Homo sapiens: one gene and its partners. The protein of the gene in region 1 interacts with the protein of each later gene in a pairwise test. Each region holds a gene or a part of one and is shown in the gene's direction. Other genes may lie near its edges.

Region 1 (7,825 bases):
CATGATTTCTGCTTGCACGTGGTTTACTGTCTAGTGGACAGAGAAAGACTAACGAGAGAATTCCTGTTATGAAAGGCAGTTGTGCACAGCTTCTCACCCCCTGCATCGTTACATAAGAGCAGCCTTGGGCCTGGAACATTTTCTTGCACAGAGATAAAGAGTCATCATAGCCTGTGCTAGGCACATCTCTGCTTTGTAATAACTTTCCCCGTTCCGGGTTTCACGTGTACTTCTTTGTTCTTAAGCGCATGGGTCAATGGCCATCAAGTGCACCTCCAGCTTTCTATAGTTCTGGCCCCAGGGGGATGGGTTGAGGATCTTCACCTGCAGCAACAGAGCAGTGTATGCATTCCATCTCCCTGCATCAGCTAGAGGTCAAGACCCACTGCCATGGGGGCACACAGTCATCACTGAAGCTAATCCTGTTCCATCTCTTCTCTATATGAGTAAAGTGTTTTCCATCCAGTGCCTGTGTGAATCATCTTTCTTGGTGACATGGACATCTCCAAACCATACAGTAAGTTAACATCCTGGGACTGCTGCTTTGGTGATAAGCAACAGGGGTCATTTGCTCAACAACGACTGTAATGAAACTCTAGCTGAAAGAAAGGAATGCCTGCTTTAAAAGCACATAATTTAGGGACTTGACCCAGTTTGGATGTATGATCCAGATTAGGGGATGCCGGGGAAGTATCAGTGAAATGACTGAAGTGAGAAAAAAAGTATAAACAAGTGCTAATTAGTAAAATAATGTACAAAGGTCCTATGGCAGGAGTAAACATGATATATTTGAAAAACTGAAAGAAGGCTGGTTTGTCTTCAGAGCATGAAGTAAGAAGTAGTATGGGTTAATAGAGACTGGAAAGAGAGATAGAGAATATACCTTGCAGGGCCTTCCAGGTCACATTGAGAATCTGATTGTGAATCCACTAAGAAATGGACAGCATAGAAGAGTGTTTTACAGAGAGTTTTGACACAGAGAGATCTGGGTTTTGAAGAGATGGGGCCTGTTGGCTTGGGAAAATGGATCAGAGAGGAAGAAAATGGACACAGAGAGATGTGTGAGACCGTTGCCAAGATCCAGAAAAGTGTGCATGGTAGCTTAGACCAGTGGTTCTCACCAGGGAAATTTTACTCCTCTGAGGACACTTGGCAATGTCTTGAGACATTCTTGGTTGTCACACCATGTGTGGGAGGATGTTACTGGCAACTAGTAGGGAAAGGTCAAGGATGCTACTAAACATCCTACAATATACAGGGCAGTTCCCTCAACAATCATCTGACCTGAAATATCAATAGTGCTCCAACTGAGAAATCCTGGCTCAGACCAAGATGGTGGCTGAGAGAGAAGGAAGTACATATTGCAGAGACGATTAAGAGGCTAAAATCAGCAGTAATTAGTGACTGATTGATCGTGTATAATGGGGGAAAGACTATCAAAGGCAACCCTCAGGTTTCTGGCTTGCTCACCTGGATGAGTGGGGAGTGCCGAGATGAGAAATGCTTGAGGAGTTGATGGTTTGGTAGGGGAAGATAAGGAGCTCTGCTTGAAACCCTGTAAATGTGAGGTGCCTATATGACACTTGAAAGATGAAAAACACAATTCTCTAGGTCTACAGATCAAGAGGGGAAGCCTGAACCCTGTATTTGAGAGCTTCTGTGAATAAAACAGAAGACGTAGGCATGGATGAGATTACCTAGGAAAAGAATACAGAATGAGAAGAAAATAATCCTGGAGACTGAGTCTTGAGAAACTCCCAGGAAAGGAGCAGGAACCAGCAAAATTGTCTAGAGAAGTGGGAGGACATGGCACGCATCAGATGCTTCAAGAGGGCCTGTTTCCTGGCACCTTCTCCAACACAAGCACCACTGATTATTATTGCTATTTTTTTTTGAGACAGGGTCTTGCTCTATAGTCCAGGCTAGAGTGCAGTGGCATGATCTCAGCATCTCAGCTCACTGCAGCCTCCACCTCCCAGATTCAAGTAATTCTCGTGCCTCAGCCTCCTGAGTAGCTGGGACAGGCATGCACCACCACACCTGGCTAATTTTTGTATTTTTTGGTAGAGACGGGGTTTCACCATTTTGGCCAGGCTGGCCTTGAACTCATGACCTCAGGTGATCAGCTGACCTCGGCCTCCCAGAGTGCTAGGATTACATGCGTGAGCCCCTGTGCCTGGCCTAGATCTTTTTAAACTTTGCTAAGCTAATCAAGTCTAATCAGTTTTTTTTTAATCTTGTTTAAATATACCAAAGTTTTAGTTGACAATTTTTGGTAAATAATGAGATTAAGCATCTCTGCCATGTTAGTCAGCCATTCATATTTCTTTTGTAAATTGGCCAATGCATGTGACTTGCCCATTTTCTATTTCAGATATTCATATTTTTCTATAGACTTTAGTATATCTTACGGTTTTAAACTCTTTACTGTCACATTCTTAGGTATTTCCTGAGAATTTATCTTTTTTTTGGTGGGGGGGGGTTGCAGTGGGTGGTGTCTTTCTATTCAGTCATTTTTCATTTTCATGGATTCAAATTTGTTGACTTTATTTCTCTTCCTGCTTTGACTGCATAGTAGAAGAGACTGTTCTTTCCCAAGGATGATAAAAATGTTCTTCTACATTTTTTAGTATGTCAAATTATTTTATACATTTAAATTTTTAAACCACCTAAAATCTATTTTTGTGGGTGATGAGTAATTAGAATCCTTTTCCAAATGAGCCAGTTGTTTCAATACCAGTTATTGAATAATATGTTATTTCAACCTGTTCTTTATCTTATAATCCTATATCCAATAGTCTGTTGTGGCCTATCTTTTTTGTTCTTTAGATCTCTCAGTATATTCCTGTGCCCAAGCCAGGCTGTTTTTATTACTGTGGCTTTACAATATGTTTTGATAGCTGGTGGGCAAATCTGTATTATTTTATAATCAGGAAAACTCACAAAGGAGTGTGTGTGTGTGTCTGTGTGTGTGTGTGTTCTTGCATGTGGAAGGTGGATGAGGAAATGCCTTTGAATGACTAGGTCTACTTTGGAAGCTGCAAAGGAGTTTGACACAGTGCCTGGAGCAGAGTTTCCAGAAAAGCTTGGAAAAATAAAAGGAGAATTGGAGACTACAGGGCTCTCAAAGGAGGCTGATGCTCACACTTACAAGGTCTGTAGGTTGATGCAAGCAGAGAGGAAAGCTGGCATGGACTGATCTCTGTTATTTTTATACACTAGCACTAACTGCCTTTCAAGGCCCATTAGGCCTGGAAACCTTTTCCCAGCCCCTGGGAAGTCACTGGGGATGCTAAGGTTAGTCATTCACCCACTGGGGCTATCTAACTGAGCTCAGGTCCGGGTGCACTGCCAGCAGCTGTTTGTGTACTTACAGCCCCCTGGGTGCAGACGGACCCCCAGCTGCCAGCCATATGCCTTATGTTTCATTGTCCCACAGCTTTCAAAGAAAACAAGTCTTTTAATTCAGCAAGTATTCACTGAATGTCTGACACCCCCAGTGCAGACCCTGTCCCAATCCCCCAATGGGGTCCACCTCTATCCAACTCTGGGTGAATGACCATGGTGCTCTTGCGCGCGGGCACACACACACACACACACACACACACACACACACACACACAGGCACACACACATAACTCAGGCTTGGGGCCCACCTCTCTGGGCTCAGAGGTATCAAAGCAGGGGCATTCCTATCTTAAGGACTTCTTGTCTTAGGGGCTTTGGCCCCACCTGCACAGGACAGAAAATTAGTGGATTTCTAGGAGAAAGCAGGCTATGGCAGGGTATAGCCAGGGACTCAGCTCTTCCTTCCAGACATGCAGGAACCATAAGGAGGGATGGTCAAACAGGGCCTGCTTAGGCCTCTTGCTGGGATCACTCCAAGGGTCTCTGGGGTCACTCAGAGGAGCCGGGAGGCTGCCTGCTGCTGTACACTGAGACAGACTCCTGGGGTGTTTGGATCACGGCAGCCCACATGCTGCCTTTTTGTTATCTTTTCTGTTTTGCCTCTTCCGGGCTGTACTTGTCTTGAGTTTTTGGCCTTATGACATCCATATTAAATGGGGTAGGGCAGAGCATTGCTCAGTAAACAGCAAGAATGGCCCTGGGCATGGCCAAGGCAGTTCTGCTAAGTGTGAAAGGGAATGTGCCTGCCATACTTTGTGCTTTAGGCCCAAGTGACCTAGGGGCCAGCCTGCCTACTGGCCTCACTCCCAACATTACAGGTGTTTGACTCTACTCCACCCCGTGGAGAGACGGAGCACAGGAGCCACCCACCGGGGGACCACATAAGGTCATGCACACCCACAGAGTGCCCAGTCCCTGCCTGGCCTTGTCCCCATTTTCCCTCCACCTAGGGTTGGGGTGACAATGGAGGTAACTAGAAGACAGATCAAAAGGTTCTTGGTCTTGACACAGATGCAAGAAGGAGGCAGATAATAGACACCTCCCTTCCCCCTCGCCCACATAGGCTCCGGTGGGTTCTCAGGGCAAGGCCTGGCTCCCTCCTCTCCGACTTCAGGTACAGGTGAGTGTGGAGGGAACTGAAAGAGGAAAGGTGAAGTGCTGTTTGGCTTCGACCTGGAGGGGGACAGAAGGCTCTCTGGGCAGGCAGGGCCGGTCTTTTGGCAAGAGGCGCGCTCTCTCTCCCTTCCCCTTCCATCGAGGGCTGGGTGTGAAGGTGAGAGCAATCAGAAAAGAAGGTGAAGAGGTACTTGGCCTTGACACGGACGGGGGGGGCGGTCCCAGGCCGAGGCCGCCCCGCCCCCGCCCCGCTATACCCGGCGCCGCCTCCCGGCGTCTGAGCTGACACCTCCTTAGCGCTGGCCGCGGGCCGCCTCTGCGGCAGCGCTAGTCGCCTTCTCCGAATCGGCTCCGCACAGGTAAGATCAGGGGACCCGGCGCCTGAGCTGCCGAGGAAGGAGTCGGGGGTGCTGCGTGAGACTGAGAGTTGGGAGGCAAAGAAACAAAATCGGATTTCCTCAGAGGGCCAGAGGAAGAGACTGAAACACGGTAGCCCCAAATCCTTGGGCGGCTGGGAGGTGGTCCCTGTCATGCCCACGACGGGTGGGCGCGTCTTTACCGACAGCCTGCATGGATCCGCAGATGTGCTGGGCGCTTAGATGCCTGCGGCTATGCAGAGACGCAGTCCAGAGAGGTGACCCCAGATCCTGGTGGGGGCTGGATCCCAGGGCCCCGACATCCCTTTGCAATTTCCAGCCAGCAGCTAAAGACTCCCTTCCCGGGGCTTTAGAGAGGCTCCAGGCTCGCGATCCATGAACACACAAAAACCTTCCTTGCTCATGTTCTGAAAAAAAGCCCCGCCTCAGCTTTGTGAATGTTAATAATAGGGGGAAGATTTGTTCTCTCTTGGGTGTGTGTACAGGTGGAACAATCTGCAGAAAAAGACCTTTTTTCGGAAAACCTTTTCAGTTTGAAGTTTCAGCAAATCCATTTTTCATTTCCTTTCATTTGGGGAGATGACATGAAATTTAAGCTCCAGCTTTGGGGCTGTCTCTGAAGTTCTGGGGTTCGGCTTACCTTTCCCGGGATGAGGTTTTGATTTGGAGGAAGTAAAATGGGTTTTGTCTTAACCTGGGCTCGTTCTTTAAACTTGTGAGGCCGGGGCGGTGGACTTACTGACATCCTGTATTCTCTCACCTGCAGCTAGGAGAAAAGATGTTCACTGTGCTGACCCGCCAACCATGTGAGCAAGCAGGTTAGTATCTCTCAGCAGGTAGCAAGCGTGGTTTTGCCAAATCGCAAGAGAACCCCAGCTTCGGCCTACAGTTTTTCATCCATATCCCCTGCAAATGATTGTTTAACTTTATTGGTTTGAGACTCAGTACTCAGCTGGGTTTCAACACCGGCATTCCTCAAATAAAAGTAATGCTTTTCATCAAAGCCACACAAAACAAGGACTAACATGCATGTTTCACTTAAATGGTTTTTCCGGTTTGTATAATCCATTAATTTGGCCCTTGTGGTTTCCCTTAGCTAGCTGTGTGTAACGTTTGCTTTAGAATACTGTATTGTTGATTTTGTGATCAATTGTACAGTACTTGGATCTTTCCTGTATTCCCATCCAAATGTTGCTGGCACAGTGCCTACAACACCCCCACCCCTCACTGTGAGTCAGTGTTGTTATGGTTGATACTGCAGGCACAAGTGCAGGATTTTCTCACACTGGAAGGCACACACACACAGACACACACACACACACACACACACACACACACACACACACTTCTAAGCTTGCCCCGCCTGCCTCTAGAGCACTTTTTGGAGTTGCTCATGTGGAAGCCCAGAAGGCTCTGGCTTCTCCAAGCTCAGGTAGGTACCTTGCAATTACCATGTTTGTCCAGCCCTAATGACAGCACAGCTCTAGGCTGCATTTCCTAAATGAGTAAGACCTGGTCTCATCCATTTTGCTTTGTAATAAGCTTTTCTGCAAGGACAAGAGTTTGCTTAAGGTAATCATAGCTTTTTACTTGAAAACTGCTGAAACACAGAAGACTTAGGAGGCCAGCCACGTAGCTGTGGTCAGGAAACTGCATACATATCACACACTCCTCCCCCATGGATAGACATTCTTTAGTCATGCCCCTAAATTGGGTATTCTTGTCTTCCAAAAGGATATGATTTTAGGATAGTAAGGGCAATCTATATGAACTTTTATTTTTGTAAAGGGACATTGCACTTGAGGAGCTGTTTTCCTTTGATCTTTAGGTTTTCCCCCAAAACACTTTGAAATGTTAACACAGATTGTAACGTCACTCATACAGACTAACCTGTTACATTCCTTCCAAAGGACAAGTTTAACTTGGCAGATTAAATTTCTACCCCATTTTGTTAGAGGGAAAAAATCCCTTAAACTTCTATAACTAACACTGACAAATGCATTCTTTGAAAGCTAATGCAAAAGTTTGCCTCTGTGGATTAACTGGTTCCTGTACTTTTATTTGGAATCACAGAAAAGTGATACAGGACCTCTTTACATGCTCTGCAGGTCAACTCCATGGCAGTTGGCTCTCCTTTCCATTGCTATTACCCACAATTCTGTAATGAGTAACCTTGTGTCTAAGTCATTTTACACATGTGGAGCTAGTTCTGTGGGATAACTTCCCAAAAGAGTGATTGTGAGTCAGATGGCATGCTTATTTGCAGTTTTCATAAATATTGACAAGTTGCCCTCCATTGATGCTGTACCAGTTTACACTTTCAATGACAAGGTAGGAGGATTAAGGTGTTAAGTGACCAACTTTGACACCAAGAAGTGTCTGTGACTGCAGCTACACTGCAGGGGAATCAGTTGAGATGGAAAGAGTTAGCTGTTCTGAGCCATGAAGACCTACTGCGTGACTGCCCTCCTGTAGCAAATGTTGTGATGTGACTGAATTTGGGGGCTGAATCTAATTATATCGTGGGCGCATAGACATGCCCTGTTATTCTTCTGGGAAAATGGCTTACAGAAATAATGGAGGGGTAAAGCATAGGTTATAATGATCTAGGAATAATGTTCTGGAATAAGACAGGATCTATCCAATTGCTGTTCAATTGATCTTCCTATAATGATGAAAATGTTATATGGCTGCACTGTCCAATATAGTAGCCACTAGCCCACATGTGGTTATTGAACACTGGAAATGTGGCTAGTAAGATTGAGAGACTGCATTTTTTTATTTTAATTAATTTACATTTAGATAGCCAATTGATTAGATATATATTGGAATTCGATGAATCTAGTGATCTTTCTATTAGTGTTCATCATATTTCAACCATTTGGTTGTCATTTATGTTGATGTCCCAATAGTTTTACCAAGAC
Region 2 (7,025 bases), on another chromosome or scaffold:
AGAGGAAGGTGGGAAGCGTATGACCGTCCTGTGCATTCCCCTTTCTGACCACAAGGTGTCGCCACTGCAGCGGAAACATTAGTTTTCTCCGGATATCAGAAATTACTAGTCCCTTTCCGAAGGAAAAGGGGCTTGGGAGCCCCAACTCGGAATCAAAGAAGGTCCTGTGGCACAAGACCTGCACTGGTTCATCCCAGCAGCTTCCAGTGCACACGGTTTGCATCAGGGAACTGGGGGAGGATAGCGCTGACTCATTGGACTAGGAAACCCCATGTTCCCCACCCTAAACAAGGCCTAGAGCTCAAAGCTGGACTCTGACAACTAAAAAAGTCCTGACTGTCTGCAGTGTGCTGCCTACACTAAATCCAGAGTCCGAGCTTCACACTCTTAAGTGGTGGGGATCTGTTATGAGCTCTAGACCTCCTAAGTATGCCCAGGGCCATAGAGCATTTCCTAAAGTGTGTTCCTTCAAGATGCCTCTTAAAAATAACAAATCCGATTCATTTAGCAAATGAGAGCATGAATACCACACCCCGCTGTCAGAAGTTCCCAGTGCTCAACAGCATTGTAGGAGCTCTGAAAGTGCTGCCCTTAGAAAGATTACTTAATCCTAACTCAGTGATTCCTAAACTTGCTTTTTTAGGGACTCCTTCTCCATGCCGCATGTTAATATCACATGTAAACAATGTTCCAGAAAACATACTGAGGCGTGGAATTCTAGGATAGAAGGGGACACATTTTATGAAGAATGAGCATCCAGAGAGTAGTGTCCTGGGGGTCAAGGGAAGAATTTGAAGAAAGTACAAGTGAAAAGACTGAAAGAAAATAGCACCAAATCAAAGTGTTATTTATAGGTGATGGAATTATGAATGATTTTTATTTGTTCTCTCTTCTTTAAAGAGGCATTCCTTGGCCCTTTGGATGAGATTAAAACCCCTTGCCATAAGCTCAGATAGTACCTCCATCTTGAACTGTAACCATCATTGTTTCATGTCTGTCTTCTTTGGGAGACTGGAAACACCAAGAGGACAGGGACCCTCCTCATCTCGTTTATAGCTGTGATCAGCAGCTAAAGATTTTCTGTATTGAATTGAATTGAAATAATAGTTTTATATCATTTATAAATTATTATAAGGAGCATACATTGCTTTTATCATACAAAATTTTATTTTTATACATATTTTTTTCGAGATGGAATCTCGCTTTGTTACTCAGGCTGGAGTGCAGTGGTGCGATCTCAGCTCACTGTAACCTCCACCACCCAGGTTCAAGCGATTCTTTTGCCTCAGCCTCCCAAGTACCTGGGACTAGAGGCGCACACCACCATGCCCGGCTAATTTTTATATTTGTAGTAGAGACGGGGTTTCACTGTGTTAGTCAGGCTGGTCTCGAACTCCTGACCTCAAGTGATCTGCCCGCCTTGGCCTCCCAAGGTGCTGGGATTACAGGCGTGAGCCAATGTACCCGGCCACAAATTTTTAAAAGAAAATTATCAATGGCTCCAGGGAGTTCTAGACCTGAAACAGGATTTTTGTTCCTGTTTTATAATTTCTTAATTTTGTGACCTTGAGCAGTTCACTTAACTTCTTTAAGCCTCCAGTTAACTCCATGAATTGGAGATTGAAATATTGAGGATTGCTGGAAGGATGAAAGGACATCACATTTGAGGATGTGTACTGAGCAGCACATCCGGAGAAGGAAAATCTTGAGATGCAATCTTGCAGGAAAGTGACGGTGGGGCGGAGAGAGGACAACTCCCCTGGTTTTGCCCCTAGCACCAAGTGGCAAGAGGCAAAGCTGGTATGATTGACAGGGCCAGATCTGTGACCTGAAGCTTGGACTTGTTACTGAGGATTACGTCTAGTGGTTGCTGGGCAGCCCCTGAAATGTCTGAACAGAGCAGTGACAGGATCGTATTTACAATTTAGAGCGTCTCTTAGGGATGGCGTGTAACCACCTGGTGGCAGCAGGGATCAGGCAAGGCTGGCTCTGCAGCAAAATTAGAGGAGGTAGGTCTCCAGCTCCTCTCAAAATAGCAGTTATAACAAAGCATCTTGGATGGCAGGACATATACATATGCCCAAGCACAAAGCTCTTGCTTTCAAGATGAAGAAATTCATAGGATGATAGATTGAGGGGAAAGGTCTTCCATGAGATATTCTGGTCCGTTCTCTTCGATTCAGGAGGATCAGGTGTTTTCACTCCTGCTTTCCGAAGGAAGCCTACAGCTCAAAGAAGTTAAATGGCTTGCTCAAGTGGCGGCAGATGTAGAGGAAGAGTCTAGACAGTCTGCCTCCGTCCCACCCCAACAGCACACACATTCACCACCCCCCATACCACACACACTACACATGCAACACACACCACACATCACACACCACACACATTACACCCACCACACACCACACATCACACACTGCACACCACACATACTACACACGCCACACACACCACACACAGTACACACCACACACACCACATGCAGCACACACACTACACACACCACACACACCACACACCACACACACACCACACACATTACACACTCACCACACACACTACAAACGCTGCCACATACACACCACACCACACGCACCACACTACACATGCCACACACACCACACACACGCCATACACACACCACACACACCACATACATCACACACTACACACACACTACACACACCACACACCCACCACACACCAGACACATCACACACTCACCGTACCACACACACTACACACACCACACACATCACACACTCACCACACACACTACACACACCACATACACACATACCACACATATGCCACACACACCACATACCATACACACACTACTCTCACAGAGCACAGCACACACACGCTGCACATCACTGACACACCACACACCACACACACTGACACACCACACACACTGACACACCACACACACCACATAACACACAGACACACACACACACATACACCCCACACACCTCTCTCATGGCAGAAATCCAGAGATCAGAGTTTTTGATTTCCAAAGGCTTCTTTCATATGAGTCTAAGCTAAGAGATTTGGTTTCTGAAGATCATAAAAGTAATAATATCTTCTGATTAGAAAGCATTTTCATGTAATACATAATGTGCATTATGTTTCCTGAGCACTTACTACATATCAGGCATTCTGTTGTGGGCTTATATTTATTATTAGTACCTCATTTTATGCTTGCAAGTACCCTGTGAGGCAGGTACTATTATTTCTGATTTTAGATGAGGAAATGGAGGTTGAATGAAGCTGAGTTACTTGCTAAAGACAAATTAATAAGTGGCAGAGCCAGGTGTCAAACCCAGGGTGCCTGACTGAATTCTGAGCACTTCACATTGTGGGCCCTGCCTGGTTTAAGCGTCCTGCAGCCCTGGAGGTGGACATGGGGCTCCGGCCTGAAGAAGCTCAGTGGCAGAGGTTGTGCTTCCCAAGGAGTCCAGACCTCCCATTCCTGGCTGTCTCCACTCCACTGTAGTGCCTCTCTTCACCCTGACTCTTCTTCCCCTGCAGCCTCAGGTCAGCCTGTCTCCCTGAAGAATATCTCCACAGACACATCGGGTTACTACATCTGTACCTCCAGCAATGAGGAGGGGACGCAGTTCTGCAACATCACGGTGGCCGTCAGATCTCGTAAGAGCAGCCTGCGGGGGGAGGGCTGACAAACGCCACAGGATAACTGGTGGGGGTCCAGAAAGTCAGCTGAGACCACCGTGAGGAGGAATAGGGGAACCTCTCTAGGGCCACGCACCTGCAGGTTAGCTGTGGTGACCTAGGCAGGATGACTCTGTCCCAGGCTCCCCTCACTCTGAGGCCAGTCCAGTTCCACTGGTGTTTGGAAGTGGAACCTAGGACTGACTTCTAGGACTCAGAGGCTTTGTCAGTCCCACCTGCCTAGGAACCACTCGGTGGGCGTGGAGGAAGTGCCCAGGGCAGCTGCCGCAGAGTCTGGACCACATCCTTCTGGGGTGAGACACCAAATCTAGCTTAAAGAGCTGGCTGGGCTGACATCTGAGGACTTTTGCAGAGCCAGGGTAGCCCGGAAAGTGTTAAGATGTGAAGTGGACCATATGTCTCTGTCTGCACCTCCATCCTGAAGAATATTCCTGGGCCATGGCTGGTCACATTCCTCCAAGACCATGCCTTTCATGGAGTGTTACCAGAAGCTGGTAGCTGCTGCTCCCCTGGCTGGGAGGAGACCCGGAGCTAGCTTAGAAGCTCGGCAAGTGCAGCTGCTCTGTCCTCTTGCAGCCTCCATGAACGTGGCCCTGTATGTGGGCATCGCGGTGGGCGTGGTTGCAGCCCTCATTATCATTGGCATCATCATCTACTGCTGCTGCTGCCGAGGGAAGGACGACAACACTGAAGACAAGGAGGATGCAAGGCCGTGAGTGTCTGGGCTGGTAGCCTGTTGGAAGGGTCTGGGGAGACTGGAAATATGCTTCCCAATTCCTCACAGCCTCTTCTACTTGCAGCACCCCTTGGGGTATATCACCCCCATTTTGTGCTGATGAAACAATGACCTGTCCAAGCCATAAAATGTGCATTGCAGCCCCAGGACCTGCCTCCCAGTCCTGTGGTTTTCCAGTCTGGGAGCTCAGGGCCGGGCTTCCTGTGGCATGACTAGAGCCAAGTGTGGCCTGGAGCCCCTGTCACGGGGCCAGTTCCTCCTGGGCTGGTAAAGCCAGCCTGTTCCTGTAACCCCCTCAGCTCATGCGTGGAACAAGTCTGTGGCACCTTTACTCTCAGCCCAGCCTTTCAGCCCAGTGTCCTCTGCAGCTGGTGGGTGGGGAGGAGGTCTGGAGGCTGCTCTTCCTGTAATGCACATGAGGCCCAGCTCCCTTGAGGGTCCACCTGAGAGCAAATCCTTCCCCTCTGTCCCCTGCTGCCCTGCAGGAACCGGGAAGCCTATGAGGAGCCACCAGAGCAGCTAAGAGAACTTTCCAGAGAGAGGGAGGAGGAGGATGACTACAGGCAAGAAGAGCAGAGGAGCACTGGGCGTGAATCCCCGGACCACCTCGACCAGTGACAGGCCAGCAGCAGAGGGCGGCGGAGGAAGGGTTAGGGGTTCATTCTCCCGCTTCCTGGCCTCCCTTCTCCTTTCTAAGCCCTGTTCTCCTGTCCCTCCATCCCAGACATTGATGGGGACATTTCTTCCCCAGTGTCAGCTGTGGGGAACATGGCTGGCCTGGTAAGGGGGTCCCTGTGCTGATCCTGCTGACCTCACTGTCCTGTGAAGTAACCCCTCCTGGCTGTGACACCTGGTGCGGGCCTGGCCCTCACTCAAGACCAGGCTGCAGCCTCCACTTCCCTCGTAGTTGGCAGGAGCTCCTGGAAGCACAGCGCTGAGCATGGGGCGCTCCCACTCAGAACTCTCCAGGGAGGCGATGCCAGCCTTGGGGGGTGGGGGCTGTCCTGCTCACCTGTGTGCCCAGCACCTGGAGGGGCACCAGGTGGAGGGTTTGCACTCCACACATCTTTCTTGAATGAATGAAAGAATAAGTGAGTATGCTTGGGCCCTGCATTGGCCTGGCCTCCAGCTCCCACTCCCTTTCCAACCTCACTTCCCGTAGCTGCCAGTATGTTCCAAACCCTCCTGGGAAGGCCACCTCCCACTCCTGCTGCACAGGCCCTGGGGAGCTTTTGCCCACACACTTTCCATCTCTGCCTGTCAATATCGTACCTGTCCCTCCAGGCCCATCTCAAATCACAAGGATTTCTCTAACCCTATCCTAATTGTCCACATACGTGGAAACAATCCTGTTACTCTGTCCCACGTCCAATCATGGGCCACAAGGCACAGTCTTCTGAGCGAGTGCTCTCACTGTATTAGAGCGCCAGCTCCTTGGGGCAGGGCCTGGGCCTCATGGCTTTTGCTTTCCCTGAAGCCCTAGTAGCTGGCGCCCATCCTAGTGGGCACTTAAGCTTAATTGGGGAAACTGCTTTGATTGGTTGTGCCTTCCCTTCTCTGGTCTCCTTGAGATGATCGTAGACACAGGGATGATTCCCACCCAAACCCACGTATTCATTCAGTGAGTTAAACACGAATTGATTTAAAGTGAACACACACAAGGGAGCTTGCTTGCAGATGGTCTGAGTTCTTGTGTCCTGGTAATTCCTCTCCAGGCCAGAATAATTGGCATGTCTCCTCAACCCACATGGGGTTCCTGGTTGTTCCTGCATCCCGATACCTCAGCCCTGGCCCTGCCCAGCCCATTTGGGCTCTGGTTTTCTGGTGGGGCTGTCCTGCTGCCCTCCCACAGCCTCCTTCTGTTTGTCGAGCATTTCTTCTACTCTTGAGAGCTCAGGCAGCGTTAGGGCTGCTTAGGTCTCATGGACCAGTGGCTGGTCTCACCCAACTGCAGTTTACTATTGCTATCTTTTCTGGATGATCAGAAAAATAATTCCATAAATCTATTGTCTACTTGCGATTTTTTAAAAAATGTATATTTTTATATATATTGTTAAATCCTTTGCTTCATTCCAAATGCTTTCAGTAATAATAAAATTGTGGGTGGAAATTCTTATTTCTTTTTTAATGTGGATTTTGTTTGCAGTAAGATAAAGCTTGGGTCTCATGGATCATCTCTACTCACCATAGCACTCTTCTGCTTCCTAGGGGAGGTGAGACAAGGTAACAGATTTGAGAATCCTGGGGTCCCTCTGCTTGTGGCCGCAGTAGGGTCAGGCAGTGCCTCTAGTGGTTGCTGGGAATAGGACAGATTCCTGCCTGCTGGTGGAGGTATATTCCAGGAGTCTGCAGTGTCAGGACACCAGGAGGCCTGGGTGTCGGTCCACGTGCTTGAAGGAAGATGGTGGAGATGCTCTAGCCAGTTCTGCTTCCTATGATGCCCCTTCTGAGAAAGGGGCGGGGCAGTCCTCTTGTTCTGTCACAGAGAACTGTGACGCTTCCTCCTCCAAGGCAACTTCGCTCCGCTGTGGGCTCTTGGCTTTGACATGGACTCTCCTGCGAGATATTCAAGGTCTGTTCTTCAGTGTCC
Region 3 (7,025 bases), on another chromosome or scaffold:
AGTATAAAATAGTAAGTTAAAACTGAATTTGAAGTTTAATAACTTTTAATATTTAAAAACCCATCTTAAAGTTACCAGATACAAGTTTAATTCCCCTCCCCCGCCCCGCCCCAGGAAATGTGTCCTTTCCCAGTAGTTCTTAGAGTAGTTGAATGTGTACTCACAACCGTGCTTGTAAATGGCTGGTGTTTTTTTCTAGGTAAAGTTGAATATTTTGTTGGTTAAAATGCCTCATCAACAATGTCTGATTAACAAAGTATTTGTGATGCTTCCATGAAGTTTCTTTTCTTAGCTGCTGATGCTTGTTCCTGTGAAGAACGTGCCTCTGACAGTTACGTGGACAGGGCTTAAAGAGTAATCTGCTCAATACAATCTGTACTGACAGATGTAGTTTCTAACCAGTGATGCTGTTTTTGAGCAACCAGTCATTTGGGCATAGAAAGTTTGCGTGACTTGGTCCAGATCTCTGACACTCTAAATCCAGAAAGATATTTCTGATTTACAGAAAGTAAAAGACTCGCCCATCCAGCAGGTACTTGAATGTCAGGCCTCTAGCAGATCATGTGCTGGGTGCAGAGAGACACAGCAGTGAACTGAGCGTGGGTGGGGATGCATGCAGCCTGGGAAGGAAGAGTGACCGAGGTGTAATGAAATTCACTGTAGGACGTAAGCAAAATGGAATAGCTATTCTATAAGATAACCACCCCAAACGTATTTTGATTACTTTTTAAAAAAAGTTTATGAACATTGATGTATTTATATTTGATACATATATATGATATATCTATTTATTATAGTGAAGAATAGAGAAACCACACATTTCATCTGTGGGAATTGTTTGCATGATAATAAACAATAAATACACAGTAGCTGTGTGGTGTTCTTAGTAGACCTAAAAGAAATGAGAACGTTATTTTTCATCCTGGTTTCAAGGTGATGAATTGCAAATCTCTTTTTTTTTTCTTTGAGACAGGATCTCACTGTGTCGCCCAGGCTGGAGTGCAGGGGCACGATCATTACTCATTGCACCCTTGACCTCCCAGGCGCAAGCCATCCTCCCGCCTCAGCTTCCTGAGTAGCTAGGACCACAGGCGCGTGCCGCTGCACCCAGCAAACTTCTGTATTTTTTATAGAGATGGGGTTGCGCTGTGTTGCCCAGGCTGGTCTTCAACTCTTGAGCTCAAGCAATCTGCCCACCTTAGGCTCCCAAAGTGCTGGGATTTCAGGCGTGAGCCACCGTGCCTGGCCTGCAAATATAATTTCTTAAAGGGCGGAAAACACTGCTCAGATATTTTTAAAAGTTATTTTTTGACAGCTCATGTTTGTCCACGTAGTGCAGAATGTTGTATAGTGAAGATGCAGGTTCCAATTCATAAAATAAGAAGATTAAAAAACTTCACTGGAACTTAAAATACTAAGAGTTTAATATATGAACATAATTTTATATATGCATATATTTATAGTTTAGAATGTCATAACTTATGCAATCCTGCCAAATTTTTATATTTTGTGTGTTCTCATACAAACAGTTCCTACAGTTGGAGTCTATAGTTTCTCTATTCTTAATTATAATAGGTTTACTCATTTGTATATCTAAACATGTCCTTTAGTTTGAAGAGCAAAATCTATATGTTTTTACAGATTAATCACTTCTTGTTTTTAACTTGAGGTCTATTCTGAATTTAAGGAGTAGCAACTGTAAGAAATAACTGATCCATAGAAGAGCTCCCTAGGAGCCCAGATCTATCGCCTTGTGGTGGCAGGATTTGCTCCTGCCTCCGGACTGATACGCCCCTCCTCCCTGCCCTTGCAGGTGCTGCTCCCTTTGTCTGAACCACTGGACTTCTCCCTCTGCGCCTTCTCTCTTGCCTTGTACCTTTTTTTTTTTTTTTTTTTTTGAGACAGAGTGTCGCTTTCTTGCCCAGGGTGGAGTGCAATGGTGCAATCTCAGTTCACTGCATCCTCCGCCTCTAGGGTTCAAGGAATTCTCCCGCCTCAGCCTCCCATGACACCCAGCTGATTTTTGTATTTTTAGTAGAAGTGGAGTTTCACCACATTGGCCAGGCTGGTCTCGAACTCCCGACCTCAGGTGATCCACCCGCCTCGGCCTCCCAAAGTGCTGGGATTACAGGCGTGAGCCACCACATGTAGCCTTGCACCTTTTTTAGTCTCAGGTTAGGCATCACTGGGAAGCCTTCCTGCCTCCCTTTCCTCGCATGTTCCCACAGATGGCCCATCTTGTCTTGGGGCATTCTGGACACAGATGCAGTCCTGTTTTTTCCTGCACCCTTCCCCCAGTGCTTCAGCCTTTTCAGGACAGATGCATACTGTCATTTGTGCTCTGAAGCCTCAGTATTCTGCATGGTGCCTGATCCAGAGCACCTGCCAGGTATTTATTGAATCAGTCTGTTTCCATTTGAAAATGCCCATGGTAAGAAAAATGTAGATGCCACTGGAATCTGTTGTCTTCAAGGCCTTTTGGTTAAAAGGGACAGAAACCCATCAGCTAAAGCAGAAAAGGGAGATTTATTAAAAGGCAGAATGGGCTGGGTGGGGTGGCTCACGCCTGTAATCCCACTACTTTGGGAGTCCAAGGTGGAAGGATCACTTGAGGTCAGGAGTTCTAGATCAGCCTGGCCAACAGGGGGAAACCTCGTCTCTACTAAAGATGCAAAAATTAATTGGGGGTGGTGGTAGGTGCCTGTAATCTCTGCTATTTGGGAAGCTGAGGTGAGAGAATAGCTGGAACCTGGGAAGTGGAGGTTGCAGTAAGCCAAGATCCTGCCACTGCACTCTAGCCTGGCTAACAGAGTGGGAATCCATCTCAAAAAAAAAAAAAAAAAAGGTAGAGTGATTTCTCCCAGGCTTTGAGGGCACGTAGTACCATCAGCCCTCATGAGGGATGGAGTTAGGACGGAGCGAGCCACTGAGGTCCTTCCTGTCCTTGTGTCGTGGCCGTTTTGTGCTTGCGGGGTCTTAGTCTGTGTGTGTGTCTCTGTTTCCGTTTGTTGACGTTTGTCATTTGTGTGTACTTTCCCACTCTCCTCCCCCTTGTCTGTGTCTGCCCTTCTCTTGCTCTTCATTCATTCATTCACTCGTTTGTTGACCTGGTCATCACTGACTGGCGGCTGGGTGCCAGGCACTGCTGTGGGCAGAATGCCTGGGTTGTGAAAAGACAGAAGTCCTTGCTCTTGTGGAACCTGCAGCTGGGAGATAGACAGCAGCTGAGCAGATGAATCAAGTGTCTTTCGCAATCCTTGCTGTGAAGGAATAAGCAGGGCGAGGGTGTGGGTGTGGCTGCCTTGGCCGGGTGGGTCAGGGGGCCACCCCGTGAGCTGAGCTGTGGATAAGAAAGCGGCTGTGGACAGGGCTGGGGGAGGGTGCCCTGGGTAGAAGGCACAGCAAGTCCAGAGGCCCAGAGTTGGGAACGAAGTCATGCAAGGGACAGAAAGATGCTGTCGGTAGTGAGTGGATGGTCAGCAGTGGGCGGAGGTGAGACGTGAGTGAGCTGAGGAGGTTGGCTGGAGCGAGATCCTGAGGGTTTCTCTTCGTCTCCACGGCCTGGTGTAAGGGGCTGCCCCCGCCCCCAAGTTTAAATGCTCTCTAGTTCACGCTCTCTAGGCTTCATCATGTCAGTTCTGATCCTCATTCCTGGGGCGAGATCATGTGGTGGGCCCTTGGTAGCTCAAGATTAGCCTGGCAGTGTCTCATGTCCATGTGCCATGCTGGGGGCATCCAATTTATTGCAAGTGCTTTGGAGAGCAATTTGGCATTGTTTAGTGAAGCTGAAGACGCTTAAACCCCATGGCTCGGTGGTCCTCTCTCTGCATGTGTGTGTATGTTCCAGAAAACCATCCTGACATGCATGTGCAGCCTTGTAACTGTGGTTCGTTATATTGTTGGTAATGGAAAAATATTAGGCACAATAGGAGCCTGGATGGCTACCTCATGGCTGTTTATATAATGGAGTGTATGCAGCAGTAAGATGAATGTATGAGGTTGAACCATATGGTGTGGTTTCACCTAACACTAGAGCAATATATGCTGAGTGGAGAAATATGAATGTATAGCTGAGAGGAAAAAAAAAAATGATTAAATTGCAGAGGCAGGCCGGGTGTAGTCGCTCATGCCTGTAATACCAGCACGTGGGGAGACCAAGGTGGGAGGATTGGTTGGGCCAAGAAGTTCAAGGCCAGCCTGGGCCACATGGCCAGACCTCATCTCTAAAAAAATATGTGTGCCTGTAGTCCCAGTTACTCAGGAGGCTGAGGCAAAGGGATCACCTGAGCCCAGGAGGTTGAAGCTGTTGTGAACTGTGATCACGCTACTGCACTCCAGCCTGGGTGACAGAGCAAGACCCTGATTCCAAAAAAAAAAAAAAAAAAAAATTGCAGAAGTGTAATACTATTTACATAAAGTCTAAATGCCTGTTAAAAAGTATTTATATAATAATAATGGAAACAAGTGTTAGTAAAAATACAAAAAAATAAAAAAGTATAACATTTTATTATAGGTATAAAAGTGTAATTCACCATACAAAATATGAGAAAGTAGGTTACGTTTAGCACCATATTTACAAACTGGCCCAGAGTCAGCATTTACATATTTATTTATTTGTTTTTTGAGACAAAGTCCCTCTCTATCGCCAGGCTGGAGTGGCACCATCACTGCTCACTACAGCCTCAGTCTCCTGGCTCAAGGGATCCTCACAAGTGTGAGCCACCACGCCTGGCTAATTTTTGTATTTTTTGTACCAAAAATGGGGTATCACCATGTTGCCCAGGCTGGTCTCAAACTCTGGAGCTTAAGTGATCCTCCCAGTTAAGCCTCCCAAAGTGCTGGGATTACAGGCATGAGCTGCCGCACCCGGCCAGCTTTTACCTATGTTTAATTACAAGTATTCTTTTCTTTTTTTACCCAAGTGATTTAATTGTGAAAAGTAAGTCAAAGTATTCTAGCAACAAAGTACTAAAACCACTGTGTATATGTCAAGGTTTATAATTTATTTGCCCACAATTATTATTTGTATGGAAGGTCCTTAGCATGTGTGTGTGAACAACAGGCAGAAGAAAGCCAGGATTCTGTCCAGCTTTGGATTCTGCCATTTGTGGTAGTTCAGCTTCTATTGAATTATAAATGATGATCGTTCCAATGGCAAATTACTCTTCTCTGTTAAATAGTCTCTAAACCAGGAAGCTACCTGCTACCTGTTTCTGACAATAGTATTCACACAGGGAGAGTTGTGATTTTACTATAATGCTACTTTTAAGGAGACTTCTGTTAACATTTAACCGAAATGGAATGTTGATATTTAAATGTTTATCCTGTACTTCGACACTTGGGAAATCAAGTATGTCATATAGAGAGTATTCCCTGGCTTTTAGTAAATGTTTGCCACTAGCAGTTTGGTTATTTACAATAAATACCCTCTCATAATCATGGCTGTTGTACAGCTGTTGCACTATCTCAGCCTGAAAGACTGAACATGGACATTCATTGAAGACAAGAATAATGTAGCTTAGGGATAAAGCCAAAAAGATTGCTTTGGTCATTTTGTTTTGTTTTGTTTTTTTGAATGGAAAAGCAAAGACAGTATTATTGGGTCTGTTTCCTGTTATCTAATCAGTTTTGAGACTTCCAGGTAGAAATAAGACATATAAGTCAAGGCTTAAGAATAAGAAATAAGACAATAGAGGAAACATATTCCAGTCATGTGGATCTTTCCTGGTCTACAGGGAGAGAAACAAATTGTTTACCAGCAAGCGAATGACTTGGAACAAAAATCCGCCCGTGCCGTGGGTTCAGAGTGGAGGAGGATTGACGCCACGCCACTGTGGGGGGTGCATCGCGCAGCATGGGACGGTCACCATGGGAGAGGAGGGTTGAGCCTCTGGTTGTTTACGCCACGCCACTGTGGGGGGTGCATCACACAGCATGGGACGGTCACCATGGGAAAGCAGCTTGCTTTCACAGGGAAGCGTGGCGCTGGGGAGCATTGAGATGGGTGCAGCCTCTTTCCTGGAGCTGCAGGTGCAGCCTCCACAGTAGCATCTGCCTCATGGGATTTGCCTCACGATGGTCTTGTGGTGTGGGGGGTAGGAAGTAGTGGGAAGTGGTGGGTGTCCACCTGAAACAAGACAGGCTGTGGCTTGACCATTGTTGAGCCTGGGTGATGGCGACACTGAGGGCTCACCATAGTATTCCTTCTACTTTTGTATATGTTTACAGTTTCCCAAACAAACAAAAATGAGGTGACTTTGAATCTAGAACCTAAAGTTCCTGGCAGAGCAGGGAGGTGTGAGATGCCCTGAGAGCCATGTGGCACCTCCAGGGTGGGGTGAAGCACTTTTATGGCCCGGGGCTCAGGGCCACAAGGGCCGTCTGCAGCTCACTTTCAGCTCTCCACCCCTCCTCCCCACCCCCTCCATGGGTATTTGGGTGAATGCACAGTCAGTCAATGACTTAAAGCGGTGATGCTTCACTCCATCATTCCTGGCCCTGCGCCTCTGAGACCGCACAGCTGAGAAGACAAGGCAGATAGCCATAGGGAAGCAGTGAGACCCCGTGCCCAGCTAGTGGGATTTAATGCCCAAGTGAGCACTTGGAGACAGGGAGGGAGCAGGCTGTGGGCCCGAGAGGCGGGGCTGGCACGCACAGGGGAGTAGATCCTCTTTCTAAGAGAGGGGGTCCCCCGCAAGGGGAGTCTGTGGGACCTGGCCACCTGGCCTGCATGGCTGGTGGGGCTCCGCAGCACAGCTCCTCCCCGCATCCCATCTTCCCCCAGGGTAGAGTGTGCTTGTTAGAGCAGGGTGTGTGGAATCACAGTCACAGGCCGTTTTCTGCTCTGCCGTCCCTGCGAGTGATCCCTGCACTGTGTTTCAGCCTCCTCACTGGCAACATGGGGACCATAAAATTAATGAGAACATGTGTGTAGAGTATTTCAAATTGCCAACTCTTGTGAGCTGGAAGTAAAGGACGGCTCTTACTCTTTTTAAGAGGGTCAACATGGTAATAGTACAGTTGTT
Region 4 (7,025 bases), on another chromosome or scaffold:
CCATAGAGACTGGATGGGCGTGATAGTGAGAATTGCTCAGCTACGAGTTGCTGTGTGAACATAGCAAGTCACTTTCCTTCTCTGGGGTCTCCATCTCCATATCCGAGGTTCTTTCCAGCTGAGATCCCATTCCAACCCTTCCCCCAACTTCTTCATTCTGCATGAGGATAGGAAAATGTTTCCAGGGTTAAGGATGGGTAGGGATGGCGTCTGTGTGCCTCTCAGTCTGGAAAATGGAGAGCAGAATATTCGCTATCCTCCTTAAAAATCCAGATACGGGCCATAAATCATGTGGAAATCATGTGTGCTCTGTTGCTCTGTGCAAAATGCAAAATGTATGCTCACCCTGAAAACAACTATGCAAGAAATACGCATGCACTTGGACAGACAGGAGAGTGAGTACACAAAGTCAAGACAAGTGTGTTTGGAGGTGGCTGGGCTGCCTTATTTTTCTTTCTATGAGGATACCTTCATGTTGCTGCAATTCTGTTTATGCGATTCTCAGAGATCCTCAGAAGGGGGCTGCCCTTCCTGTCCCATGTGGGGGCATCTCCTCCCTGCCCCTCCCGCTCTCCCATGGTTTCTGATGTGGCCACCCTTGAGCCACTGTACTCTGTGGTCCTTCAGCCCCTTGGCCAGTATGAGAGAGAGGGTCTGGGCTCCAAGAACTGGGATAAAGGACCAGAGGGAGAGCAGGTCGTTTCTCCAGATGGAAACACTAGGTCTGTGTGCTGTCCCCTCCTTCCTCTGGCTAAGGGGAAGGGATGTCTGGCTTCTCTAGAGGGAACTGGCTTGGGATCCCAGAGAAGCCCCAGCTGGGAGGGTGTGGGGAGGAGAAGGAGGAGGAAGAAAAGGTCTGTTTTCTCAGAGGGGAGCAGCAGGAAGCTGCAAGGATGTTTGCCCAGCACACCCGTTTACTCCCTGCAGCTGGGGAGGCCAGGTGTGGGAGTGACGGGGACCCAGGGACCAGCCCAGCATTGCGGGGAGGCGGTGGGGGCTAAGGCTGATCGCTACTCCCCACACGCCTAGCCTGGCTTCTCCTGAGCTAACTGGGAAGCAGAGAGGCACCCCCACCCCCAGCCTTCGGGAGATTTAGGGAGATTAGAGAAGTATGTGTGTTTGGGTGTTCCTATGTCTGTGGGTGGGCCTTTAACAGTCCTTAAAAGGGGAGATTTGTGTGTGTTTCTGTTTAAGTTCTCACCAACAGGAAAGAGGACAGAAGTGCTAAGGCACTCTGGTCTCAGAGTGCAATCTGCTAGAAAAGATCTAATGAAAAACCTACTGGAGGAGCCCAAATCTCAGGGTGCCTATTCAGAAAGGAGACCTCTGATACCTACTCTATCAAAACATTAAGTTCGTTTTGAGCAGAGGTTTGATTTGGGTTTTGCTTCCCCCAGTGTTGAGGGAACAGTTCCTTGAGTCAGGGGCTTGGTCTGTCTTGTTCACTGCTGTATCCCAGTGCCTAACAACCGTTGATGAATGAATAAATCGATGGATGGATGAATGAATGGATGGATGGATGAAGAAAAAGGGGCCCAAACCAGACCCCACATTCTTAGAGAAGAGGGAAAAGTGTCCTTAAGCCCATCTATTTGCAGCCATCGAGGTCCTGCAGACCCTGCACTGTCTCTGGGGTCCAGGAAGGGCTCTCCATGGTTTTTAATGAGTTCTCATTACCTTGAGCCATCCCCCTACTGCACAGGCCTCTGCAGCCCCTGGTCTAGAATAGTCTACAGCTGGCTGACCCACAGGGGATTTGAACTTGTGGCTCAGGTGTCACTCTTGAGCACTGTCTCTAGGGCTTCCGTTTTCCCCAGTTTCTTCTTCAGATTGCTCTAGGACTCCTGGATCCATACTCACCCAATTTAAGACTAAGCCTTTTCCAGCCCTGCCTCAGAGCCCTTGCACATGCTGTTCCTGTCATCTGGACTGCTTTTCCCCCAGTCTGTCCATCTCAGCCTTCTGATCCCAGCTCAAATATTGCCTCCTTAGGGAACGCTCCCTGACTACCTAAAGTGGGACCCCCCTGTTCTTTTCTGTTTTAGTCTTTTGATATCTTCTAGCCCTTAACCCAGTTTGCAATTATTTTAATGGCCTATTGTCTATTTCCTCCACGAGAAAGTAAGTTCCATAAGAGGAGAGTCCATATCAGTTTTGTGCATTGACATAAACCTAGCACAGTCACATGGGACAAAATAGATGCTCAATGTAGTAAAATTCTACAATAATGCAATAAATATGCCCAGTCAAAAATTTCCAATTATGTTCCTTTGCGGTGACTCATGCTTGTAATCTCAATGCTTTGGGAGACCAAGGTAGGAGGATTGCTTGAGCCCAGGAGTTCAAGACCAGTCTGGGCAACATAGGGAGACCTCGTCTCTACAAAAAATAAAAAAAAAATGAGCCGGGCATGGTGGCATATGCCTGTGGTCCCAGCCACTTAGGAGGCTGAGGAGGGAGGATCACTTGGGCTGGGGAGGTTGGGACTGCAGTGAGCCATAATGGCATCACTGCACTCCAGCCTGGGCAACAAAGCCAGACCCTGTCTCTAAAAGTAATAATAATAATACAAATTTAAAAATAAATTTTCCAATTACATAAAATGTGGAGTAATATTTTTGTAGAATTAACGAAAAACAGTATTTTTCAGATGGTCTGTACTATCACAAAAAGCAGGAAAGTAAAAATTGTGACACCTTACTGCACAAAGCAGACCAAACAGAAAGAGTACCACAGGAGCATGAGGCAGTCACTTTTTTTTACCAGCCCCATAGAGAATGGAGTTTTGCTCACTTTTATTTGAGAAGGGGCCTGAGCATAGAACAGAAGTCAAGTTTGGGTCACATTGTAGTGAACTTTGCTCTATTTCAAGGACTTACTATATTTGTAGAGAAAATTACTTTAGACTGGGGCAATCCTTGTAAGGGAAGGGAAAAATTGTTTTAAAAAAATCCCAGGCTGGATGTGGTGGCTCACACCTGTAATTCCAGTACTTTGGGAGGCGGAGGCAGGGGGATCACTTGAGGCCAAGAGTTTGAGACCAGCCTGGGCAACACAGAAAGACTCCGTCTCTACAAAAAATAAAAAATAAATTATCCAGGCATGGTGGCACATACCTGAAGTCCTGGCTGCTTAGGAGACTGATGTGGGATGATCACTTGAGCCCAGGAGTTCAAGGCTGCAGTGAGCTATTATCACGCCACTGCACTCCAGCCTGGGCAACAGAGCAAGACCCAAAAAATCAGATCTAAGTGTTCAAGAGGTGTACTTATGATTCCTGAAGGGATCCTGGGGTTTTCAGGATCCTGGACTGGCCATCCCTTAGGGTGGTGGGGATGCTGGGTCCCACAGAAGTGCTGTCTGTGCCCCGATATGTTGTGAGGTCCCTCCGGCTTCCCTGGACCAGCTGGGAATTCACTTGCTCATTCATTAATACACATGTCCATTCCTTCAGCAACTGGGCACTGAAGGAACATCTATGCTGGTGCCAGGGTAACCCAGATGAAGAAAACACACTTGACCCTCCAGTCAATCGCGGACGAATGAGAGAGACAGAGAGGGAAATAGGCAGTATCAACACCATGGTGGGCGCCATGATGGAGCAGAGCATGGCAGGAGGCTGAGCCAGGCTACAGGTCATGAAAGCTTTCTCAGAAGGTGATCTCTGCACATGCTGCCCCAATTTCCCTCTTCCTTAGTGGCAAAGGAGTTATTAGAAGGCTTTTCTGGCCAGGCATGGTAGCTCATGCCCATAATACCAACACTTTGGGAGGCTGAGGCAGGTGGATCACCTGAGTTCAGGAGTTTGAGACCAGCCTGACCAACATGGTGAAACCCCATCTCTACTAAAAATACCAAAAAAATTAGCCAGGCATGGTGGCATGTGCCTGTAATCCCAGCTACTTGGGAGGCTGAGCCAGGAGAATCGCTTGAACCCAGGAGGTGGAGATTGCAGTGAGCCAAGATCGCACCATTGCACTCCAGTCTGGGCAACAAGGGCAAAACTCCATCTCCAAAAAAAAAAAAAAAGGCATTTCCACAGGGACTGGGGCCATGTTCCTTTTACTGAACACGTATAGGCATTATTATCCATTGTGCACTCTGCTCAAGGGCAGGAGTCCTATGGAGAGTCAAAGAGGGGAGCAAGAAGAAGCTACAAGCAAGTTCTCTCATTGTTCTAGTTTGAGATTTCCCCTCTAGAGCAAGGAAAATTCAGGATCTTTCATATCACAGGGTCCCTGTCTTCATCCTCACCCACTCCCATCCTTAGGGCACCTTGGATGCCTAGAGCTTTATGGGCAAAACCAGATCCCCTGAATAAGCTCCCACATCCCATTTCACACCCTATCAGATTCACCCCCAGGATGCTGTTCCCCAGCCCTTCTGGGGACTTGGATCTTTGCTCTCTGCAGCTCCCAGGACTCCTCAGGAGACTCTGTTTCTGTCTGCCCTGGCCTGGCCTGGCTACTGCACCAGGAGAGGGGAGCATAAAGGACATCCCTGTTTTGTGTCTTCTCCCTGTATCATGTGCCTCGTGCGAGTCCTGGTACCGAGGCCCTCCTGGAGCATCTCTCTCTGGAACCTGGCTTGCCCTTGAACCTCCCTCAAGAAACCAGCTCCAGATGCTGGAGAACAGGCTGTTTCTCTGGAAGTCTCAGCACTCCTGGGGGCAGGATGGAGGAGGAATATTTGGGTGGAGTTAAGTCAAGACTGTGAGCTGGAACTCTGTGTAACCCTCTTGAGCAGCCCTGGGGAAGCCAGACTGAATGGCAGGACCCTGGACCAGGATTGGGGAATGTGTGGGGGTGGGATTGTCTGGTTCAGGAGAAGCTGGGAGAGGCAGGAAATGCCCCAGGACTCTGACCCTCAGAGGAAATATGTCAAAGGTATTGATTTCTTTGGAATGTCAAAGATCTTGATCCCCACCACCTAGACACACCATATTGTCTACAAGGCCAGTTTGATAGCTGGAGCAACCATGGGCTTCCCTGCCGCCGGGTTCAGTGTGCCTCCTCCCCTAATTCCCCTGGGACAGAGCCTTCACTGCCGCTTCCTTGGCCGTTGGCTCGTGGCTCGTGGCCCAGAAGCCACTTCACCCATCACAGAGAGTTTGACACATCTGGGCTGGGATGTGCGGTCCGACATAACAGCTGGACAGCAGCAGCCACTGGCTCCTCCTCCCCTTCCAAAAGAATAACAAAAATGAAAGTAGCGATGGAGTGAGGCAGGCTCTTCAGGCCTTCATGGAGAGCCAGGAGGCGGGTTTCAGGCAGTGATTGACAGGGGCTCGCTTTGGAGGCAGACAGGTCTGAGCCTTTGCCCATGGGTTCCCCTCCACCTGGAATACCCTCACCCTTCTTTACCTCATTTCCCTCACTTGCTGTGTGACCCTGGGCAAATCACTTTCCCTTTCTGGGCCTTGGCCTCCTCATTTCTGAACTAAACTGAGGGCTCCTTGAGAGCAGGGTGTGTCAGTCAATTATTTGCGGCTATTCCCTAGGTACAGCTATAATGACTGAGTGCTCAGGAAATGTTTATTTATTGGATGGATGGAAGGAAGGCAGGATGGAGTAGGGTGGGGACGATAGAGGAATGAATAGGTGGGTGGATAGATAGTAAAAGAAAGGACACTTCTACACTTCCAGCTTTGATGGCCCTCTTTTTTAAAGTAGATTGCTTCATTCGTTCACTCATTTGATTACTCAAATCGTGAATGTTAGCATAAATGCCATCTCTCCCTTTCACTTTATCATCATGGCCTTTTCTATTATGATATCTTGTGCACTGGTAGAATATATAGACTGTATATCTATCAGTTATAAAGTATAATAAAATTAATACATGGAAACTTACCCAGCTTAAGAATCAGACTCAGGGCCGGGCATGGTGGCTCATGCCTGTAATCCCAGCACTTTGGGAGGCTGAGGCGGGTCAGTAGTTTGAGACCAGCCTGGCCAACATGGTGAAACCCCGTCTCTACTAAAAATACAAAAATTAGCCAGGCGTGGTGGCGGGAGCCTGTAATCCCAGCTACTCAGGAGGCTGAGGCAGGAGAACTGCTTGAACCCAGGAGGCGGAGGTTGCAGTGAGCCGAGATTGAACCACTGCACTCCAGCCTGGGCAACAGAACAAGACTCTGTCTCAAAAAACAAACAGACAAACAAAAAGAAAAAAGAAAAAGAAAGAAAGAAGAAAGAAAAAGAAAAGAAAACACACTCGGTTCTGAATATCTTGGTCTCTCAAAGCTGCATGAGTTTGGGACAGAGGTGAGCTGTAGACCCTGAATCCACCCCACTCTGGGGAGATTTTAAACAGGAAAGTCCCAAGACTTCCCAGGTGCGTACTCCCAGGCTCAACGTGTGCAGACAGTGGGTCCACAGGTCAGATGGCAGATGATGAGGCAAGTGCTGGGGAAGTGATCCTTGCCTGAGGCGGGACGTCTTCAGCACTGCTTAGACCTGGGGCCTCCCACTTGTCACCTGTGTGAGCTTGGGCAGGTGCTTTAACCTCTCCAAGCTTATTTTCCTCATCCAAAAGTAGGGTTCATGGTAAAACATAGGGTTCTTAAGAGAATTCCATTAGAAATTCTTGCAGAGGGCCTGGTACACCATAAACCCTCTATAAACAATAGTTGCCACTGCTGTTTTTATTGTTTTGGTTTTTAAATTTTTTTTTGAGACAGGGTCTCACTCTGTTGCCCAGGCTGGAGTGTAGTGGCACAAACACAGTTCACTGCAGCCTCAACCTCCCGGACTCAAGTGATCCTCTCACCTCAAACCCCTGAGTAGCTAGGACTACAGGGACATACCACCATGTCTGGCTAATTTTTTGTATTTTTTGTAAAGATGTTTTTTTTGCCATGTTGCCCAGGCTGGTCTTGAACTCCTGAGCTCAAGCGATCCTCCCTCCTTGGCTCCCAAAGTGCTAAGATTACAGGCATAAGTCACCACACCTGGACAATTTTTAATTTTTGTGGGTACATAGTAGGTTAGATATTTATGGGGCACATGAGATATTTTGGTACA

Evidence for each region.
Region 2: the proteins of ENTPD3 (region 1) and GPA33 interact in binary tests that used the Homo sapiens proteins (3 or more experiments, as listed by UniProt).
Region 3: the proteins of ENTPD3 (region 1) and STX2 interact in binary tests that used the Homo sapiens proteins (3 or more experiments, as listed by UniProt).
Region 4: the proteins of ENTPD3 (region 1) and CREB3L1 interact in binary tests that used the Homo sapiens proteins (3 or more experiments, as listed by UniProt).

Annotation. Positions count from the first base shown.
Region 1 is NC_000003.12:40,382,379-40,390,203, forward strand, and holds the start of ENTPD3 (ectonucleoside triphosphate diphosphohydrolase 3), read left to right. Parts: upstream 1-4,805; 5' UTR 4,806-4,883; exon of another isoform or gene 4,884-5,013; intron 5,014-5,667; 5' UTR 5,668-5,679; coding exon 5,680-5,719; intron 5,720-7,825. UniProt on the Homo sapiens protein: Has a threefold preference for the hydrolysis of ATP over ADP.
Region 2 is NC_000001.11:167,052,362-167,059,386, reverse strand, and holds the end of GPA33 (cell surface A33 antigen precursor), read left to right. Parts: intron 1-959; exon of another isoform or gene 960-1,080; intron 1,081-3,537; coding exon 3,538-3,657; intron 3,658-4,275; coding exon 4,276-4,411; intron 4,412-4,920; coding exon 4,921-5,053; 3' UTR 5,054-6,551; downstream 6,552-7,025. UniProt on the Homo sapiens protein: May play a role in cell-cell recognition and signaling.
Region 3 is NC_000012.12:130,829,230-130,836,254, reverse strand, and holds part of STX2 (syntaxin-2), read left to right. Parts: intron 1-2,112; exon of another isoform or gene 2,113-2,263; coding exon of another isoform or gene 2,264-2,389; intron 2,390-7,025.
Region 4 is NC_000011.10:46,280,642-46,287,666, forward strand, and holds part of CREB3L1 (cyclic AMP-responsive element-binding protein 3-like protein 1), read left to right. Parts: intron 1-7,025.